2 linked regions of the Homo sapiens genome follow. The protein of the gene in region 2 interacts with the protein of the main gene of each other region in a biochemical or structural test. Each region holds a gene or a part of one and is shown on either strand. Other genes may lie near its edges.

The links.
Region 1: of the proteins of PLG (region 2) and CHGA, one has a biochemical effect on the other in vitro, tested with the Homo sapiens proteins (one study listed by BioGRID).

The regions. Positions count from the first base shown.
Region 1 is NC_000014.9:92,933,150-92,935,785, reverse strand, and holds the end of CHGA (chromogranin-A isoform 1 preproprotein), read right to left. Parts: intron 986-2,636; coding exon 902-985; 3' UTR 501-901; downstream 1-500.
Region 2 is NC_000006.12:160,697,324-160,705,264, reverse strand, and holds the start of PLG (plasminogen isoform 1 precursor), read right to left. Parts: upstream 3,022-7,941; 5' UTR 2,961-3,021; coding exon 2,912-2,960; intron 1-2,911. UniProt on the Homo sapiens protein: Plasmin dissolves the fibrin of blood clots and acts as a proteolytic factor in a variety of other processes including embryonic development, tissue remodeling, tumor invasion, and inflammation. In ovulation, weakens the walls of the Graafian follicle.

The sequences.
Region 1 (2,636 bases), on a different chromosome or scaffold from region 2:
GAAGTCATAGCAGGGCCTAATAAGTGGTTATGCCAAGGGGTCCCTGCAGCTCAGAGGCTCAAGTCTGATGCCTGTGTCCTGCGACAGGCACTAGACTGGGGCTGTCAGGGCCTCCACCCGGCACCACAGGTGACTGGATGGCGGGGACCATCAGGGAGGGGCGACCTGATCTCAGGAAACAGAGCCCGTGTCCCCACCTGGCGCTGCCTCTGCATGGCCCAGCTCAGGTGTGGCTGGGGACGGGGAGAGGAAGGAACCTGGAGGCCCTCAGCAAGTGTGCTTTAATCCCTGCACACACTCTTTGAGGCAGGTCAGCATTCCCGTTTTACAGATGAGGAAACTGAGGCTCAGAGCTAACAAAGTCACTTGCTCAAGATCCCACAGCCAGGAAGTGGCCCAGAAAGGAGGTCCCCAGGAGGACTGAACCTCCCTTTGTCCCTTCGCCCAAATCCAGTGCATCTCACTCCACTCTTAAGTTGAGAGGCGAAAAAATTCAGAGGAAAGAGCCCAGAACAGATTTATTTTTCTTTAGATAAAGTTCATACAGAATATGTTACAGTCAGGAGTTCTCAGCTTTCACCAAAAGGTCAGAAGTTATTGCAGTTGTGCCCAGTGGATAGGATGGAGGAAGGGAAACTTCTAGAAAGCTGCCTGTGTTCAGAGAAGGAATCGTCAATGTTTAAAGTTGTGGGGCTGCCCTGCAAAGGATGTTCCAGGGCAGGTAGGAGTCAGGAGTAGGAGACAAGGCGCGTAGGGGGCGATAGGGTGGCCTGGGCTTGGGCAGGCTGGAGGCTGCCTCCCTACCGGAAGCAGCATCCGGGCCATCTGGCCAGGACCTGCCAAGGGGACAGCAGAGCCAGGGCCACAGGGTGCCCTGGGGCCAGCCCTGCCAGCCGGTGTCTCAGCCCCGCCGTAGTGCCTGCAGCTGGTGGGCCACTTTCTCCAGCTCTGCTTCAATGGCCGACAGGCTCTCCAGCTCCTGGTCCTAGGAGAGACATTGGGGTTCACTCGGGCCAGCCTGGCCAGTGGCATGGAAGGCACAGTAAGCCAGAAAGGCGCTGGGTTAGCTGTGTGGCCTCGGACAGGTGGCTTTGTCTCTCTGTACCCTCATCCATCATGGAGACAGTGATAATGAGCTTACTGTACTGCTCTCGGGATCATTATGCACAAGAAGGTGGCTGATGCCGGGGGCCCTGTCCCCACACTGCTCTTGGTGGCCTCTTATCCAGGCCCCACTTCCTCTCAAATGGTTCCGCACAGGTGGGAGTCTGTTCTTTTAGGGCACATGGAAAACAAAGCTTACAGTGCCCTGAAGAGCCCCCTTCCCTCGGCCTAGCCCATGGTTGCCAGGACCCAGGGTGAGGCCAGCCTGGGACTTCCGGGTCTGTCTTCTGCAGCCTTCCCACCTGAGGGGAATGTGGGGCCTGAGACAGGGCTACATGCTGGGGGAGCTGCCCCACATCAGCCTGCCTAGGGCTGGGCTTTGATCCCTGGTCCTGATTGTGAGAGGATCCCGAACTCTGGCTACCCAAGTTTAGGGAAGCAGGGACCCCTCCTCTGAGCCCTGTTCTATGCCCGTCTGCAGAAGCTTTCAGGCCTCAGAACTTGGACACCCACAAGAGCACAACCTCAAGACTTAGAGCAGGAGCGCAGGGAAGGCTGCCTCCTTTGACCTGGGAGGGGTCATTTTCCCGGGGTCACTGCCAGATTTGAGGCTGCCGAGGGCATCCTGGCCCAGGGACCCCGACATTGCAGGCCGTGGAAATAGACTCTACAGCCCCTTAGTCTTGGAGGAGGCCCTGGGGCAGGTGCTCTGCGAGGCTCGGGTTTCTAAGAAGACCCTTGGGCTGTGTTGAGGAGGCCCCCACCCCATCCTCTCCATATGCCTCAGGGGTCCAGTTTCTCTGCCCTGCGGTCCAGAGCTCCCTCTGCTTGTGGAGAAAGGAAGCTGGTGGCACCTCTGGGCCCCCATTCTCTCCAGCTTTGTCCTCAGCCCCTCGCCCTGGGCTCCCAGGCACGTGGGCAGATGCCCTCTCCCGCTACAGCTGCCAACATGGAGCCTTCTTCCTCTCAGACTGCCAGGCCCAGAGAGGGGGTCGGGGGCCCAGTGAAGGGGCCACACCCTCTTCTAGGTGGGCAGAGAAGAGCCTTGGGGTCAGGGCTGCGGACAGGTGTCAGCCTTCCCACAGAGCCTGGGTTCCTACCTGGACACTAGGCTTGAACCAGGTATCCCAGCCGCCTAGCTGCCAGGGACCCCAACTCCCCCCTGCTCCTGTGGGCTGTGTCCCCACGCCCCATTTGTCTTCCCCAGGGGCCCTGGTTTTCAAAGCCTTTGTGTGTTCCAATCATGGTAATGACGTGGGCAGAGGAGACTCCTTACCCCTACTTCATAAATGGAACTGATGAGGCTCGGGGAGGGGAGTGACCCTCCCAAGTCCACGCAGCCAAGAGGAGGCAGAGCCCAGGTCTTCCAGCTCACATCCGGTGTGGCTCCCACCCACTCCCCACAGGCAAGAGATCCCTTGGCCCTGCCCCTGCCCTGCCCCGTTACCCTCATGGGCCAGAGGCAGGGCCTGAGCCTGGGAGGAGGCTGTGCCTGGGCTGCCTGGGGGCCAGGAGGGGACACGGTCAGACCC
Region 2 (7,941 bases):
CATCTGGCTGAGCTTTGGTAGCTCTATTCCAAGCCTGGAGATGCCAGCTCCGTCCTTGGCACAGAATGCTAGTGATTTGCACAAGGGTGAGAGGCCAAAAGAGGCTAATAAAATGAAGACAGGCAAGCTCCATGGAATTAGACAACAGGACAACCTTGACCACTTTGAGGGGCGTGGTGGGGGCCGCAGGCAGAGGGGGTGGGTTACAGAGTGACTAGGAGAGCAGTGGAGGCTGCAGCAGGAGACAAGCCTGGCTCTGAAGACAGCGAGCCCTCCAGGGAACATGCGGTCAGGGGAGGTTCTGAAAGATGACACACTGCAGAGCGCATTGGTTTGTATGCTGATGACAAGTATCCAGTAGGAAAGCAAATGAACAGATTTTCATTCTCAGAAAGGCCTGTCCTGACCTCCTGAGGGTACACAGAGCACAAGGGGCAGGACAGGGAGGTGGATGCATGCTCATCGATTCATGCAAAGTCCTCGGCCAAAGTCCCCCTGCTCCCCACCTCTGGGACTTTGTCCTTCCTCAATTTAAGACATTCCGGGCTGGAAAAATGGATTATTGAGCAGGAGTTGGCTGATGCATTCTAAAGCTAATCCACTAAAAAGCACTTGAGAGATATATCAAAAGATCACAAAGAAATAGATGCTTTAGGCCCATATCCATGTCTTTACCCCGCACTTTCTGCCAACTTGAACTCTCATTTTCAAGAAGAGTTGTGTTTTGGTTAATTCTATATAGCTCACAGTGTGACTTCAAAACACACAATAAATCCACAAAGTGTGTCCTACAGTGAGTTCAGTTAAACTTTCTGAAGAGTTTTTTTGAAGTATAGCAGAGCAGGCTACAACTGATATTCAAAAAAAGAAAACTTCCATTTATTTCCCCCTTCAATTAAGTTCTCTGTGTTATGTTACTATGCTTCATAGCGCATCGCTGCTGAGATCCCCTCCCCAGCTCATGTCCCTAGGAAATATCCCAAAACAGAATCAAACTTTTCTCTTTTCAGTTTGAAATAATTTTCCCCCATTTTTTCTTCTCTTATTCACCTCTAGGACTCATATGGCAATAGGATTTGATAGGGCTTATTTGCTGGCAAGGAAACATCAAACAAATCTTTTAGTGGAAAAATACATTTATATTATAGGCAAAATGCAGATGTATATTGCTACTGATGCAAATGTATTTTATTAATGGTGTGAGAATTTCTTCCTCACTGTGGTGTGTGAATGTGTATGCATATTTGCATGTGTAAAAGACTTAATTTGTGAAATGGAAGATGTTTCTCCACTTCCCACTAAGCATGGCTGTAAAAGAAACTTTTCCCTCTCCCCGGGCATTGCAGCACACTGGAAAGATGATACATCCACAGAAAACCTGGCTTTCCAAAAGAGCTTATGAGAGAATGTGCCCACCAGGTGGGTTAAAACATATGTTAATCCTGTGGCAGAGAAGTTTGATCTAGCCTTTGGGTGTAGCCCACTGAATAAGTTCATAGTGATCTATGTCCTAGTTTCCATGCATTGAAATATAATATTCATACCCCCCAACATACACCAATTTCTTACAAAAATTTCTTTAATTTTCTCCTGCTCTGTATTTTCTTTGATAGCTCCTTGAATGGCTTCCACTAAATTCAAATGTATTTGACTCTAAAGTGCAACTTGTAAAATTTTATCTGGTAATTTATAGATTGAATTTCAAGCGTACATTATTTACATGAAGAACTACTAGCAAATCGTATGATTCCGTTTGTATGAAATGTTCAAAATGGCAAAGATATAAATACAGAAAGTAGATTAGTGGTTGCCAGAAGCTGCAGATTGGGGGTAACAGCTAAGGAGAGTGGAGTGCGTTTTTGGGGGTATGAATAGTTTTAAAATTTATTCTGATGGTGGCTGCACAACTCTCAATATCTTGAAATCCATTGGATTGTATGCCTAAATGGGTGAATTCTATATGTTAATTATATCTCAATAAAGCTTTTTTTTTTTTAAAGAAAAAGAAGTACTAGGACATGTTTAGAATATTCTTTCAAAGGCTTAAACAAAGCTGAAAAGTGAGAAGAGCCCTAGATTCCTTCTGGGAAACCTGGCTTAAATCCAGTTTTCTTTATTTCCCAGATCTGAGAATTTGGTCACTGAGCAAATAACATGATATTCCTAAGTCTGATTTCTTTGTTTATAAAATGAGGATGAATATGCTACCCTACCTATACCACGAGCTAAATAAGCTAGTATTTGTAAAGGATACACACTCACACTCACATTCACACACAGGTATGTATGTATGTGTAAAAATGTAGGGACCTAACCCAAGCAACTGAGTATTTGTTGATCACTATCTGCACACAGCATCTGGCAAATGGATGCGTGTGATTTTTCCGGGGATAAGAGGCAAACGTATACTGATGGAAAGCCTTCCTCAGGCCATAACAAAGGGAGAAATGCTGAGTCCCCGACCCTGCCGCCACCATGAACTGGTGAGAGAACGGAATATATTCAAAGAGATATTTCACTGTTTTAACTTGCAAGTGAGGGGAGCATGACACCGTAACAGAGATGATATAAATTAGTCAAACTGAGAACCAGGCAAAGAGCTTAGCCGTCCTTTGCATAATTAGCTACATTGGCTCTTTTTCAATTAGACTGGCCATTATGTGGGTGCACTCATTTAGATTTGAAAAATCACCCATTATTTTCTCTGCCCATTCATTCCAGCACCCTGACAATCTTCACAGGAAACTTAAACTTATTTCTTGAAGAATTCCTCAATCTTATACAAGATTTTCAACTGGAAGTTTCATGAATCAAAAATTAAATGAATTGCACATAAAGCCATGGCATATGTATTTTTACTACATTGTGGGAGAAAAAATAATTCTTATAATTTAAAAAAACTATGTCTTACCTGATTTCAGAAATAAAAGAAGTAGAAGAACCACTTCCTTATGTTCCATTTTGGGACTGGCCAGCAGTGCCCAGAAAGTGGGTCCCAATCCCAGGATGTTGTTGACTTACATGAGAGTAAACGCATCCACAAACCAGATAGTCAAATTAAGTTAATGATTCTCTCAGAGACCCATGCCACTGGCTCAGCAGGGTTCAAACATTACCTTGAATAAAGAGTCCTTACAACATGTTTGAGGGTGGAATCTGCAATAGATGCTGGGAAGTGGTGAAAGCAATCTCCCCCCTCGGCTGCTCCACGCTGCCGTCATGTCTCCTTATTCCTTCCCTCACCCTTGTACTTTATCTCTCGCAATTAGTCTTATTTCCTCCCCTCTTCTCTTATTCCCTTTCTTTTGGAGAAAATGAAATCATAAAAGTATCTCACATTTGCTGGAACCTTCCATGACGAGACCCTCTGCCAAGCGCTGCACGTCCATAGCCTCCCTCAAGCTTCCCAACAGGCAGGGCTGTTCTCATTCCTGCTGTACGAGGGATGGGGCTGAGGCCTTCCCCAAGGTTGTGTCTCTACCCAGGGGTGCAGCTGATAGACAAAACCCCTTCAGGTCTTAGATGACAAACTTAAGTTAGGTGTAAACGTTAATATCTCTACATCCTACACCAAATGACATAGAAATTACGACATAAGTGAAAGTATCTTATTATCTTCAAAATTTATTTATTCCCAGTGAACTCACATGTTTTCTGTAATTATAAATTATGTTATAAGACATCAATCTTTCCCCCAAATGAACGTATGCCATATTATTATATTCTCATTCTCATGAAATAAAGCAAGACTGGTAGCATTAAGTGGAAAGCGTCTATCTCAATTTTAAATGTTGAATCTGTACTTTTCCCTGGCTTAAGTCTAGAGCAACCAGGTAGTATATATGCTGTAAAACTTCTATTTTAGTGTTCAAAGATATTTAGGAATAAATCAATTGACCTCTCTATTTTAGATGTGAAATAAGGACCAGAAAGCATTGTTCCTCTTTCCAGGCAGTGAAATTCCTGCCTATTCATTAACTGGCAAAAGAGTAGAGGTGGGAGCCCAATGGTCTTGGGTGGAATGTCCTGCGGAATTCCCTGGGATTGAGGAACCATGCAGAACCCTCAAGAAGAAGCCACACTGGGCAACAAGAGGGTGGCCCCATGTGAGGGACAGGGGGACCGAATCGCTTTTCCTGATTTCCTATTTTAGCCTCACTCTCTTCTCTCCTCAAATTCTTACCACTCCCTTTATCCTCTCTGACTCACCTCATGGCCCAGTTCATTAAAGGGGACAGAAGGTGGAGGCAGATTGAGAAACCAGCAGTGGGCAGACATTTTATTTTTAATGTGAAATGTCTCTTAGGGGGCTCATGTTGATGTGCTTGAGAAAGTACTCTGGGAAAAAAAAATACTCTACTAATATATAATGCTTCCAGCATGTATTTATTTCCACTTAAAATATTATTGTAGCAGTTCCTCTTGGATAAGGCACCTTGGGAATGATGTTATCAGAAATTCTACATCCACATAATTTTCTTTTCCTGTTGTTTTGGTTTTGACTTGGGTGGTGTTGGTATAGCTTTTGCCCACCTTTCCCCTGGTAGTTGTTGGATGCATTAAATTCTACAAATGTGATTTTATAAATTAGTTGCCCTCCTAATGGCCTCCTGGCTGTACATTCTTCCCTACCTTCATAATCCATCAGCATCGTGAAAGCACAGAGGGACGTTGAGCAGAGCTCTGTGCTGGCGCCACCGCACTCTGTAGCCTGTAAGAGAGCAGCAAAGAGGAATGTGTTGCTCAGGTATAGACGGGGGTGGGTGCATAGAGACTTCCGCTGCGGCATGGCCCTTCATGTCCAGGGTAGGCATGAAGCAATGGACTATTCCAGGTTGTGCATAGGAAACCACACAGCACTCTTGGAGGGATTTTTGCTCTAAAGACAACTAATTCAAAATAAGGCGCTTTCTACCTGAAAGAACAGCATGAACTAAGAAAAGAGATATATAGAGAGATCTCTGTGTACTATGATCAGGTTGCACATATTCTGGGATTTATGTATTCTTATTAGTTCAATTCCTTATTTATTGACCACTTACTGTTTACAATATTGTATTAGATTCTTTTAGGATTACAGTTGACCCTTGATCAATTTCAGGGGTTGGCACACTGACCATACACAGTAGAAAATCCAGGTATAACTCTGACTCTCAAAAACTTAACTACTAACAGCCTGCTGTTGACCAGCAACAGTTAATAACATGTATTTTGTATGTTATATGTATGATATACTGTATTCTTACAATAAAGTAAGCTAGAGAAAAGGAAATGTTCGTAAGGAGAAAATACATCTGTGGTACTGTTATGTATTTTTCCATACAGTAAGTTTACACCACCTGTTTACAAGATGAATCATCTGTCTGAAATGGAAGCAACCCCAGCTACAGACCTCAGTCTCTGTTACATATCAAGCAAATCCAGTTTTTCTTGTAATGTCAAATGTCATGACTTTTCTCTGCTTCTTGGGAGCACTTCCAGCATCACTAGTGCCACTTCATATTGGATCCCATGGTGTTATTCAAGGTTTACAGTACAGCACGAAACAGGACGAAAAATACATGCGAACAGGGAGAGAGCACTTTTTACTGTGATGCGCAATTCACTGGGGATGAACTGCTCATGATGGAATGTTGAGTATCACAGAACGTTTTAAGTGGATACTCGCAACACCTTTGCTCATTGCAACAGCAACAGGAGGAGGATATGAAATTATTACCATAGTGTGGTATGCACTACGGTTAAATTTATGCAGTTACAATTTAATACTGCATCTTGATGTTTGTATACACTTCTCTCAACTGAGAATAGCACCATATACGATCTGTGAGTGTGTACACAATTTTTACTAAATTTTAACTTTTGCAATAGTTTTGTTATATTTTATGGTAGTAAAGAATAAAATAGACTAGGTATCTACATATATTTTATGCATTCATGACATACTTAACTTTTTCTATTTTTGTTGATATTTCTAGCTGGATGGTTTGTCTTTGAGTTTTTTCAAATTGTTGCAAAACTCCAAAACATTTTCTAACACATTTATTGAAAAAAATCTGTGTGTAACAGTTCAGACGTGTGTTGTTCAATGATCAACTATATGTCTAAAGAGTACAAGTCAGTCTCTAACCTTCCCCAGCCTCTCTATGCTAAAGGAACTACAGGAAACTTTCGCACGCAAGATGTGTGGAGATTCTGCTGCTGCACTTGTAGCAGGCATAGGAACGTTCAAATAGGCTGGGCGCGGTGGCTCATGCCTGTAATCCCAGTACTTTGGGAGGCCAAGGCAGGTGGATCACGAGGTCAGGAGTTTGAGACCAGCCTGGCCAGCATGGTGAAACCCCATCTCTACTAAAAATACCAAAAATTAGCAGGGCATGGTGGCATGCTCCTGTCGTCCCAGATACTGGGGAGGCTGAGGTGGGAGAATTGCTTGAACCCAGCAGGCAGAGGTTGCAGTGAGCCGAGATCGTGCCATTGCACTCCAGCCTGGGTGAGAGAGCAAGACTCTGTCTCAAAAAAAAAAAAAAAAAAAAAAAAAAAAAGAACATTCAAATAAGATTGGAGACAAATTGAATTCTCCTTAGCTCTGCCCAGCATAAGGCCTGCAATCAAGATCCACTCAGGTCCTCTTAAGAAGGAATAGACGTCTCTTCCAGCATTAAAATGGTAAATTCCTTTCAAGTATTTACAAAGAAAGTTATAAACACCAGGAAACATCAACCTCACCAGGAGGTGAGGTAGAGTTCAACCTTCCATCTCACCTGAAGTGGAAAATGCAGCCAAGTCACAACTTCCTAGGCGAAGCACGTCCATGCAAGCTGGACTGCATTGCTGGCCTGACATTTGCACCTGGCAGCTCCACGCCACCCCTTCTTTCAACCTTCCTTGAGCCCAGGCTCTGCTGCCCGGGAACTGCCATTCTAGGACAGCTCATTTCATCAACATGAACTTCTCTGCATAGCCCCAAGAGGACAGCATCATTTCCAAATGGAACTAGCAAGAACTTAATTAATCTACTAAGGACTCATATAAAGCATCCCTCTGCCGTGGTAAGGGTCCTCGGCAAGTTTATCTGTGCCTTCGATGCCAATGTGCAGATTGTTTTTACTGCTGTTTTAGTGTATTAGGGCATACCAGCGAGGAGACTTGTACTAATTAACCTGGAGGTGGCTCTTCTTTCTTTAGTTGCCCTTTTCCACATGTTAGCCTTTGTTCATCAGTCCCCAGGACCATGCAATGAGGTGATTATCAGCCCTCATGTCCTGTAAAGAGATAGCAGACTATCTCTCAAGTTAGCACAGTGGTTAAAATGTAATCAACTCGGGGGCATTTTCTTTTCCTTTCTTTCTTTTTTTTTTTTGGAAACAGAGGCTGGCTCTGTCACCCAGGCTGGAGTGCGGTGGTGCAAACACAGCTCACTGTAGCCTTAACCTCCTGGATTCAAGCGATTCTCCCACCTCAGACTCCAGAGTAGCTGGGACCACAGGTGCACGCCACCACGCCCAGCTATTTTTTTTTTTTTTGTATTTTCTGTAGAGACAGGGTTTTGCCATGTTACCCAGGCTGGTCTTGAACTCCTGGGCTCATGAGATCCTCCTATCTCCGTCTCCAGAAGTGCTGGGATTGCAAATATGAGGCACTTTACCTGGCACTAGGGGACACTTTCTAAGTGAGACCTAACTCATTTGGGGCTCAGTGAGGTGATATTTTCTTAAATGAGTTGTGCTTGAAAAAATCTAGATATCTATTCATCTTTGAAAAAATTAATTTTCATTGGCTGTCTCCTCATCATTAATAAGCATGGCTGTGTTACATGCTTAAGACAAATTTTAGCAGAGAAGAAGACAGTCAGACCCGGATAACTTAGCAGCCTGCACTGAGTTGGCACCAGGACTCCCCAGAGGAGAGACGAGGGTCCTTCTGCTCTGAGGTCCAGAC